Homo sapiens: one gene and its partners. The protein of the gene in region 2 purifies or fractionates together with the protein of the main gene of each other region. This does not show direct contact. Each region holds a gene or a part of one and is shown on either strand. Other genes may lie near its edges. The genes, in order: UQCC2, COX20 and UQCC1.

Region 1 (3,752 bases), on a different chromosome or scaffold from region 2:
CCCTTGCAGAGTGCTGCTCCTATAAGAGCAAAATGTACAAAGTCTAAGTGCAAAAAGCAAAGTGACCCTCAGGTACTCTCACTTCTTTTTTTTTTTTTTTTTAGATGGAGTCTCACTCTGTCGCCCAGGCTGGAGTGCACTGGCACAATCTTGGCTCACTGCAAGCTCCGCCTCCCGGGTTCATGCCATTCTCCTGCCTCAGCCTCCCAAGTAGCTGGAACTATAGGCGCCCGCTACCACGCCTGGCTAATTTTTTGTATTTTTAGTAGAGATGGGGTTTCACCGTGTTAGCCAGGATGGTCTCAATCTCCTGACCTTGTGATCCGCCCACCTCGGCCTCCCAAAGTGCTGGGATTACAGGCTTGAGCCACCGCACCCGACCACTCTCACTTCTGAAACTTCCTGTGTGAAAGAGACAGTCTCCTAGAGAGTTCCCAGAATTCCTGGACTCAGCTGTAACCTGAGAAAGAAAACCAAACACCTGAGTCCTAAAACAGACTTGCCATCCAGTTTCCCGTCTGAGGTCAGAAGGTGTCTAACTGAGGCTGTAAAAGCAGCTCAGTGGAGGTGACAGGAGTTTGAGACATGCCCATTTCTAGCCAAGTTCTTACTGCTTGAGGAGTGATGAAGCCTTGGTCAATGCTGGGTTCCTAGCCACAGATAACTCAAGCTCAGCAATTAAAAAAGTCATGCTTACTACTTAAAAGGATGTCAGTGGAGACATCTGTCGAATTCCAGAAGCCTCACCACGTTCCTATAGCTTACACTTTATTCACAGACTCCAGCACTAACATTCCTGAGCTCTGAAATGCAGTTTTTCTGATGAAATGGACGGTGCATTTTTAGAAATATTCTTAATACATGCTTTAAATTACCTGATTTTGCATTCACACCTAATGAGATCACAGACGTTTTAGGACTAATAGCAGTGCTGGGTTTGAAAAGGCAGCAGTGGGGACATTATGAAAAATTCAGCACTGCTCCCCAAATGTGAATAAAATAGATGTTCATCTGACGAGTGTCCTTTATAGCTCTATTTTTGCTCCTTTTGCATTTCCCCTGTTCAGTCGTCAGTAAATTTCTCTTTACCATATTAAACTTTTATACATACAAATCTACATCAGTGCTGCAGGCACTGATTTCGATTTTGCAAATTGAATTTTGGGTGGTGACAGCAATTGGTACAGCGGCCCCTATTCTAGTCACACAAAGGGACGCATAAGCACTTTTGGGAAAGGGTGTTGCAAATTGCTTTGCTAATTAAGGTAGAGCTGGATTCGGTCCAGGAGGATCTATAAAAAAAGGTTTTCAAGACTTGGTAATGAACTTCTGAAATGAGTTCATTCTGTTATGGGAGCCTATTCCCTTCAATTGAGTTGAAAATGTATTTCTTGAGCACCTACTATAGAAAGAGTGCTCCACTAGGGGACGGTGAGGGGCCACAAAGACGACGACCCAGGCCAGCTGTGGAGAAGCTGGCAGGCACACTACAGAGACAAGATACACATGAATTAGAAACCAACCCTGCCCGGGGCAATGTGTAAGTGAGAGCCAGATCTGCGGAGCACGGGCCGCTGCACGAGACCCGAGGTGGGAGTTGGGCACCTGGCTGTGCTGATGGGGAGGTGTGGCAGGAAAGGGCTGAGTTTCACTGCAGCGACAGTGCAGAGAGTGAGGAGTGCCAACCTGGGCATGAGTGACACAGGGACCAGAAATGACTGGGAGGATGAGGCATGAAGAGGCACAGGACAAGAGTGTTTTAGGCAGACAGGGCTTTTAAGGGGAACCCAGGGAGGGCTCCAAGAGCCTGGGAAGCCACCAAATTCTTGACAAACTCTGTGTTTGGGTTTTTTGCGGTTGTAGGGGTGCAGTGATCCACAGCGCACTTAAGTCTCAAAGGATCAGAATTGCTTGTACCATGGCCAGTTTGGGAGACCATGAGAAGACACCCTTGCTGAGCCTGGGGCTCATGTTAGGGTGGTGCGAGGCAAGGTTGGAAACACAGGCTGGGACCAAGGATCAGAGGCACTGCAGGTCTCACAAAGTTGCCTGCCACCTGCCCAGGAGGCAATGGGCAGACCCCAAACATCTTTGAATAAAGTAGTGACCCACCAGAAGTGGCCAAGAATTTATCCCTTCAGGTGGAGCACTGCAGCTTTACATATGCAGAGATAAACGCCACCCCTTGGTGTGAATACTACCCTAGCTCACACTGGCGCCATTCAGAATTGGGAGAGAAAAAAAGATGGAGATGTTTGTATTCCCTCTTAGAGATGATTCTCCTTACAACTCCAGGTTTTCGATGGGCTCAATACATAATTAAAAATAGGATAATCTGTTCTTAGGACACTCTTCAAAAGCATAACTTCAGGGGGCCCACAAGTGGGGGTGAGCAACGTTGAGATGGCTTCACCGTGGCCAGCATATGCCAGGTGGCTTGGGAGCTAGCTCCCTGCCACACTGAGGAATGCCAAGGACCAGGCCTCAAATGGATGACTGAGAAAACAGAATCAAAAAAACCTTTGAATTCTCCTCTGAGAAGGTGGAAATACCATTTACCTTATTAGAAACCCAAGAAAAAGTTTAACTTCTTTCAAACTGGGCCAATATTATTATACTTAAACTTGCATACAATACAGTTAGAACTCCCTGGTGGGCGAAGAGCAGCAGCTCTTCTAGGACGCCCCTCGGAGTTGCACCTTGTGCTACATAAGTGGGTGCTGGTGTGCAGTCCGGGATCTTTTAGGAAGCACCTAATGAACTCATTAGAAAGATCTGCTCCTTTCTCTGTTGTTAGGTCAACAATTACATTTGTTGTGCCACCTTCCCCCACGTTGCAATTCTTTTATTAAGCTCTCAGCGCTGTAGGAAACACGTGTTCTTAGACAAACTGTATTCAAAATTGGCAAAGCCCATAAACACTGACTTTTTAAAACTACACAATAGGATATGGGGTGTAAGAGGAGTTACATGTGTTCCCGCTCCCACCACCACCTCCCCACTTGGTGGGTTTAGGGTGGACCACAAGACTCCCCAGAGGGCAATTTGAGGTGGAATAAATGGAGGCAGTGGTTTTTGTACTCTGGTTTTGTGTATGAATTATTGATTTGCCCTTTAGTTAACCCAGCTTTTCTCCGCCTGGTGTCCCACCCAGGACCATCTTTCTTCCCATCTGGACTGGTAGTGGCTGGGGCAAAGAATAGGTGGGTAAACACAGGGAGTTCCATTTGCTGCCCAAACTATCTATGGCCCAAAAAGGTTTGAACGGGCAACCAGGGGAAGGAAGTGGTTTGACGTTCATGGAATAAGAGGTTGTTCTAACAATAACTTGGAACAGCAGCTGAGGAAAGGCCAGGCACCCAGGAGACGATGCACACTAGGGCCAGAGGGGCTGGGTCTGTTTCTCACTTGGCTTGTCTCTTATGGCTACGGAACCCCCAGTGCGTTGTCTTGTTTTTCTGATGTTTCCTCATCTGTAAAATGGGAACAGTAATGGCTACCACTCAGCTGTACTAAGGATTAAATGAGATCACGCCGGCAAAGGTGCACTGTGCACCTTTCAGGGTGATCATTAGGACGAAGGAAGCCAAGAGGCTGAGAGGAGGACTGACTGCCTCTCTCCTCTACGGAAATGGAAAGACGGCATGAGCAGAGCTACTTTCCCCTCCAGTTCTGTCTTCTGGCAACCGGCTTAACCAAGGAGGAGCTCCATACTAGTCAGTCAACTGGATCTAAGCCCCACCTCCTGCTGC
Region 2 (3,752 bases):
AGCATCCCAAAGTCACCAAGATAAACCCTCCTACTCCAACATCACATGATCTTCTAATTCTACCTGTAAAAATAAGCATAACAATTAATTAGAATATAATTACGTTATATACATTACTCCACCTAGAAAAAAAAATAGTTCATTATGTAGAGAAATGCTTTTTTTAGTACATAGAGAAATAAAAAATACAGATACTCACTAGTGAACAAAAAATGTCCAAAGCCAGCCACAACAGATCCTAATGAACCATACAATATTGAATGCCGGGCGCAGGGAGTATTTTCAACATCTAAAAATCCTAGGAGCTTAAGGGACTAGAATGAAAAAAAAGAACCTAGATTGAGTAAGAAAGTATTTCATTTTGGGGTGCTTTGGCAAAAATGACAATACACCATTTCTTTTCTTGTAGTTGAGGGTTTAAACTAGAGTATGTGCCACGTGACAACCTAAATCAGCTTGCGTTGTCTTTGTCCACCTTTGGTATGCAGTCTGAATCTTTAAATCCGAAAACCTTACAAATTGGACCGGAAAACCCTTAAGCAGTAGGGTAACTTGGAGCTGTATCTTAATTTGCTAATCAACTGACTTGGAAATAGGATAATTCATTTTATGAGCTCTTTAAATGAGTTTATTTGGGAATATGCCTATCATTGGAATTGAAAGCAGCATAGCTTGCTTCAGTAACTCCAATAATTTGGGAAGCAGAAATGGAAAAAGTAATTTGAGTCATGTTTGCTTATGTAGTGCCGTTTAAAATTCCCCTAGTAATTACCTTTCATATTTTATTAACTAGGTTAACATCAACTGTGGTTGTAAGAGTAAATGTTTCACCTTAAGATAAACATGGGCAATATATTAAACTCTAGTCTGTTTTCTTGCCTGTGAAGTGAGGCTGCACTTGATTATATTTGATTCTTTGTTCGTAATACATGGGAACGACAGCTAAGTGTGGTGAAAAACGCGGGGATCCAAAGAGCTGGATTTTTATCTCAGATCTGCCGCTAACTTTTGTATCCTATAGGCTACTTTTATTTCTATGGTCTCAATCTATAACATGAATGGGTTGGGTTAAATGACTGAAGTTCCTTCAAGTGCTAAAATTCTTTTTCTACAGTCTTCATTGGATTTATGTATTTCTTATTCCTAATATGTTTAACTGGGATGTCTGTCACTCTAGGGCGGCAAGACAGACATTTAAAAGTAACAGTCACACTGCTGAACTGGCATTTCTGTTAACACAAAAGTTTAGAAAACTCACGGTAACTGTTACTTGATTTAAGTGTATATAAAATTTTCAGTAAGGCTGCTTTTAAAAGGAACCACTGTCCATTTAAAGGTTTCATAGTTATCTTCAATGGGTTAGTATTGTTTGGGGCAGGACATTAAACTAGAAGGGATTCTATAGGATGAGGTGATACCTAGAAGGTAATATATTGTAAGGCAAAAGAGATTAGAAGAAATGGGGAAAGGATAGTAAAAGGCAAGTCAGATTAAAGGTTGAAACATGAAGATATTCTCAATTGTATTTCTGCCTATGTTTGCTTTTTTGGCTCAAGCATCTGTTGGAAGAGACAAAATGTGACTTGGTTCATAATAAAGCAAGAATTATTTACTCTCGGATCATTCTATTCCATTTTTTCCCTCTGTCTGGCCCCGTTCCCACCCGCATGCCTAACATAGGATTGCTTCAAAGCTTTGCAGTACAGTTCTTCACATTACCAAGAGGTTGGGGGATTTCATTTAGCAAGACGACTTTTTCCTATCAGCTTGAGAGCCCAGGGGACATATGATCATGTGGGTAGTGTTATGCAGGTGAGGAATGCTGGACTTAGCGCTCCAGTCCAGGACTACCTCTAAACTAGACTATTTCCCCAAGGATGGGATGCTGGGGCCAGAGGATTAGTACCAGTTTGATCTAGTCTTAGGTGCAAAGATGCAAGTGTGAGACCAGCTTGTACCACAGGATAGAATTAAGTATTTTCTAGTCCCACTCTCAGATTCTGATTTACAATCACTGGAATCTATGTTTAGAAAACTCTAGGTGGTTTTTTCTGATGACTGTCATATTGGGGAAACACTGCTTTAGGAAATTTTATTTTTTTAAATAAAAGTAAATTTGCAAACAATAGGAAAATAGCTCAGCTGACTTTAAAGGCAAATATCTAAATAGAAGCTACACATCTTATTTAAAATAGTGCCTTCTGAAACAAACCCAATCCCCAACAAAACTCTGGTCTAAAATAATAGTGGTTGATCTCATAATTAAGAGCTGCTGGTGGGGGAGGTAGGTATTAGTGCCAGGCTCTCTACATGTTTTTTAATTCTCTAGCCTTTGTGTGAGATTACCTCTGAAACAGGCTCGGGGACTTAAGAGGCTAATAATAAGTGTTGGCAGGAGTGGAGGCAGAAGTCAGTTTCACCACAAAGCCTATGACATTTTCATTGTGCCAAACCACATCATTAAGAAGTAACCAAGGCTGGAGGGTTTGGTGGGGAGCTTTCCAGTTGTCACATATCTAAGGAGTAATAAGATTCAGTACATAAATCCCTGCAATTTCTATCAAAACAGGAAGAATATGCAACGACTTGAGCCTGTATACCTTTACAGTTAAGTACACTGAACTGTAAAATGCTCAGAAGTGGAGATGAATAAAGGATCCCGGGCATAACTCCCTTTGAAGTATTCTATTTATATACGGAAATATTCTGTTCATAATATACATGCCTTTAACATTTCTCTTCTATTCCTTAAGTAGCCTGCATACTTAAGATTTAACTCTTTGCCACTAACAAACGGGAACCCTTAAAAATAAATTAAGGAAATGTCAGACATTTTTTAAGCTTAGATTTAGAAAAGCAGCTTTACCAGCTCACCCTGATCAATCTAAGGAAAGCTCAAGAGATTTCCAAGCCAGAATGTCAATAATGTATAGAAATAGATCTGATCAAATTAGAGACAGTTGATTTTCCACCACTAAATCTGCTTCAGTGCCCGTATTTCTTTCCTCTGGTTGCAAAGGATGAATTGGCCCTATTCCTATCTAATGCTAGTCTTCCCACTTGGGCACTTGATTCCCCTCTTGCATACTCAAGGGCTTGGCTTCTATAGCTACCCCTTTCATTTGCATCGTTAGTTTTTTCACTTGCAATAATTTACTATCAGCCCTCTTGGCCAGGTGCAGTGGCTCACCCGTCATCCCAGCACTTTGGGAGGCCAAAGTGGGTGGATCACTTGAGGTCGGAAGTTCGAGACCAGCCTGGCCAACATGGCAAAACCCTGTCTCTACTAAAAGTACAAAAATTAGCCAGGAATGGTAGCACATGCCTGTAATCCCAGCTACTCGGGAGGCTGAGGCAGAATCGCTTGAGCCCAGGAGGCGGAGGTTGCAGTGAGCCAAGATGGCACCACTGCACTCCAGCCTGGGCAACAGAGCAAGAAGACTCCATCTCAAAAAAAAAACCCAAAAATCCTCTATACACCCCTCTCCTCTCATCAGCCACCTAAACCACCATCCTTTTGGGGCAAAACTTCTGAGTGTAGGTGTGCTTTTCTACTTAAAACCTCCCATTCTCCCTTTAACTCACTTGAGTGAGGCATCTATCCACTGAACTTCACTTGACACCAGTCAAGACCTCTAAAAGACATCCACTGCAGTCTAAATCCGCATCTCAGCATATGTGGCACAAATTATCATTTGTTTTTGAAACTTTTTTACTTTTACTTGGCTTCAAATACGTCTCCTGGTTTTCTA
Region 3 (3,752 bases), on a different chromosome or scaffold from region 2:
ATAGTCTTTTCTCCCCAGCCCCTGGCAGCCACCATTCTACTTTCTGTCTCCGTGAGTTTAACTACTTTGTGTACCTCATATAAGTGGAATCATACAGTATTTGACCTTTTGTGACTGGCTTATTTCATTTAGCGTAATGTCCTCAAGATTCATCCATGTTGTAGCATGTGTCAGAATTTTCTCTTTTTTTTTTTTTGGAGATAGGGTCTCGCTCTGTCATGCGTGCTGAAGTGTAGTGGCTCAATCATAGCTCACTGCAGCCTTGACCTCCTGGGCTCAAGTGATCCTCCCACTTCAGCCTCCTGAGTAGCTGGGACCACAGGCATGTGCCACCACGCCTGGCTACTTTTTTTTTTCTTTTTTGTAGAGATGGGGTCTCCTTATGTTGCCCAGGCTGGCCTTGAACTCCTGGGCTCAAGCAATCCATTGTCTCGGTCTCCCAAAGTGCTGGGACTACAGGCGTGAGCCACTATGTCCAGCCTGTTTAATTTGTTGAGGAATTGTCCTACTGTTTTCCACAGCAGATACACTGTTTTACATTCTCACTAGCAGTGCACAAGGGTTCCAGTTTCACCACATCCTTGCCAACACTTGTTATTTTCTGGTTTTTGTTTGTTTGTTTTTGAGACAAGGTCTTGCTGTGTCATGCAGGCTGGAGTGCAGTGGCCCAATGACAGCTTACTGCAGCCTCCACTTCTGGGCTCAAGTAATCCTCTCATCTTAGCCTCCCGAGTAGCTGGGACTACAGGTGTGTGCCAACACACCCAGCTAGTTTTTAAATTTTTAGTAGAGAGGAGTTCTTGCTATGTTGCCCAGGCTGGTCTCAAATTCCTGAGTTTAAGTGATACTCCTGCCTCAGCCTCTCGAAGTGTTAGGATTACAGGTGTGAACCACCACACGTGGCCTTATATTCTGTTTTTTGACAATTGCCATTCTAATGAGTATGAAATGGTGTCTCATTGTATTATTGATTTACATTTCTCTAGTGACTAGTGATATTGGGCACTTCTTCATGTCTTTTTTCTTTTTGAGACAGAGTTTCACGCGTGTTGCCCAGGCTGGAGTGCAATGGCATGATCTCGGCTCACCGCAACCTCTGCCTCCTGAGTTCAAGTGATTCTCCCGCCTCAGCCTCCCAAGTAGCTGGGATTAGAGACCTGCACCACCACACCTGGCTAATTTTGTATTTTTAGTAGAGATGGGGTTTCCCCATGTTGGTCAGGATGGTCTCAAACTCCCAACCTCAGGTGATCCGCCTGCCTCGGCCTCCCAAAATCCTGGGATTACAGGCGTGAGCCACCACGCCCAGCCTTAAATTTTGTATTTTTAGTAGAGATGGGGTTTTGCTATGTTGGCCAGGCGGGTCTTGAACTCCTGACCTCAGGTGATCCACCCGCCTTGGCCTCCCGAAGTGCAAGGATTACAGGCATGAGCCACTGCATCTGGCAAGTTTTTCATATATTTTGAATATCAATCCCTCATCAGATATATGATTTGCATGTATTTTTCCTATCCTATGGGTTGCTGTTTCAGTCTGTTGATACTATTCTTTGATACACAAAAGTTTTAAATTTTCATGAAGTCCAACTTATTTTTTTTTCTTTTATTGCCCACTCTTTTTTTTTTGACAGGGTCTTGCACTGTCACCCAGGCTAGAGTGCAGTGGCACAATCTAGACTCACTGCAGCCCCTGCCTCCCAGGTTCAAGCAATTCTCCTGCCTCACCCTCCCAAGTAGCTGGGATTACAGTCATGCACCAGCACACCTGGCTAATTTTTATGTTTTTAATAGAGAGGGGGTTTTCCCATGTTGGCCAGGCTGGTCTCAAACTCCTGGCCTCAAGTGATCCGCCCACCTCAGCCTCCCAGAGTGCTGGGGTTACAGGTGTGAGCCACCATGCCTGGCCTATTGCCTACTTTTTTGATATCATGTCCAAGAAATCATTGCAAAATCCAATGTCATGAAGCCATTCCCGTAAGTTTTCTTTTGAAAGTTGTATCATTTTAGGTCCTACATTTTGGTCTTTTATCCATTTTGAGCTAATTTGTGTACATGTTACAAGCTTTTACTATATTTTATGAGCTGTTTTCTTAGTGGCTGCCCTGGGATTACAATGAACATCTTAATTCATAACAGTCTTGTTTGGATTAATACGAACTTCATTTCAGTAATATGTAAAGACTTTCTTTCTATATAGCTCTGTTCCTTCCCGAACATTGTGTTATTGTCATCTAAATTACATCTTTATGCATTATATGTCTACCAATGTAGATTTATAATTATTTCTTCTTGTAGTTGTCTTTTAAATTAAAAAGAAAAAGAATTACAAACAAAAAATCCATTTGTACTGTATTTTTTATTTACCTAAACAGTTACCTTTACCAGTCTACTTTATTTCTTCATGTAGATTTGAGTTATTCTGTAGTTTCCTTTCATTTCAACCTGAAGGTCTGCCTTATTCTTGCAGGGCAAGTCTACTACTGACAAATTCTTTCCATTTTGTTTATCTGGGAAATCTTCATTTTTTCCTTCACTTTTGAATAATAGTTTTGCTGGATATAGAATTCTTGTTTGAAAATCTTTGTCTTTCCTTGTTTTGACTATTTTATCCCACTGCCTTCTGGCTGCTACAGTTTCTGAGAAGAAATCCACTGTTAATGTTCTTGAGGATACTTTGTATATGATGAGTTTCTTCTCTTGCTCATTTAAAGAATCTTTGTCTCTTGGCAGCTTGCATATGATGTGTCTGTGGCTCTCTTTGTGTTTATCCTATTTGGAGTTAGTAGAGCTTCTTGGATTCCTAAATTACCATTTTCCATTATGTTTGGGATGTTTTCTGCCATTATTTCTTCAAATATTTTTCGGTCCTTTTCTTTCCTTCTGAGACTCTAATTATACATATATTGGTGTGTTTGATGGTGTCCCACAGTCTGAGGCTGTTAAATTTGTTCTTTTTTTTCTTTTTTTGTTTTTGCTTTTCATTTTGAGGCTACTAATTTGTCTTTATTGCTTTTTCTTTCTGTTCCTTGGACTGGATGATCTAAATTGACCTATCTTCAAGACCACTGATTATTTTCTTCTGCCTGTTCAAATCTGCTGTTCAGTCCCTCTAATGAGTTTTTCATTTTAGTTGTTGGACTTTTCAATTCTAGAATTTATTTTGTCTTTAAAAAAATAACTTCTCTTTCTGTTGATATTCTCTTTGGTGCCATCTTGGCTCACTGCAACCTCCACCTCCCGGGTTCAAGCGATTCTCCCGCCTCAGCCTTCTGAGTAGCTGGGATTACAGGTGCCTGCCACCACGCCCGGCTAATTTTTGTATTTTTAGTAGAGATGGGGTTTCACCATGTTGGCCAGGATGGTCTCAAACTCCTGACCTCAGGTGATCCCCCTGCCTTGGCCTCCCAAAGTGCTGGGATTACAGGTGTAAGCCACCGCACCCGGCCACTTTCTTATAGTTCTTTAGACATATTTTCATTTAGATCTTTGAACATATTTGAAATAGTTAAAAATCTCTTTGTCTGCTGCCTGGGTTTTCTTAGAGACAGTTTCTATTGATTGCATTTTTTCCCCCTGTGTATGGGCCATACTTTATTGTTTCTTTGCATGTTTTATAACTTTTTGTTGTTGAAAACTGGACATTTTAAATAATGTGGCCACTCCGGAAATCAGATTGTTTCCCTTCCCAGGGTTTGCTGTTGTATTTTTGTTTAGTGACTTTTCTGAATTGATTCTGTAGTCTGTATTCTTTG

What was found.
Region 1: the proteins of COX20 (region 2) and UQCC2 purify together in Homo sapiens (affinity purification with mass spectrometry; 3 studies listed by BioGRID and IntAct, with this or other methods). This does not show direct contact.
Region 3: the proteins of COX20 (region 2) and UQCC1 purify together in Homo sapiens (affinity purification with mass spectrometry; 3 studies listed by BioGRID and IntAct, with this or other methods). This does not show direct contact.

Annotation. Positions count from the first base shown.
Region 1 is NC_000006.12:33,704,949-33,708,700, forward strand, and holds part of UQCC2 (ubiquinol-cytochrome c reductase complex assembly factor 2), read right to left. Parts: intron 1-3,752.
Region 2 is NC_000001.11:244,838,506-244,842,257, reverse strand, and holds part of COX20 (cytochrome c oxidase assembly protein COX20, mitochondrial), read right to left. Parts: intron 315-3,752; coding exon 200-314; intron 64-199; coding exon 1-63. UniProt on the Homo sapiens protein: Essential for the assembly of the mitochondrial respiratory chain complex IV (CIV), also known as cytochrome c oxidase.
Region 3 is NC_000020.11:35,405,300-35,409,051, reverse strand, and holds part of UQCC1 (ubiquinol-cytochrome c reductase complex assembly factor 1), read left to right. Parts: intron 1-3,752. UniProt on the Homo sapiens protein: Required for the assembly of the ubiquinol-cytochrome c reductase complex (mitochondrial respiratory chain complex III or cytochrome b-c1 complex). Involved in cytochrome b translation and/or stability.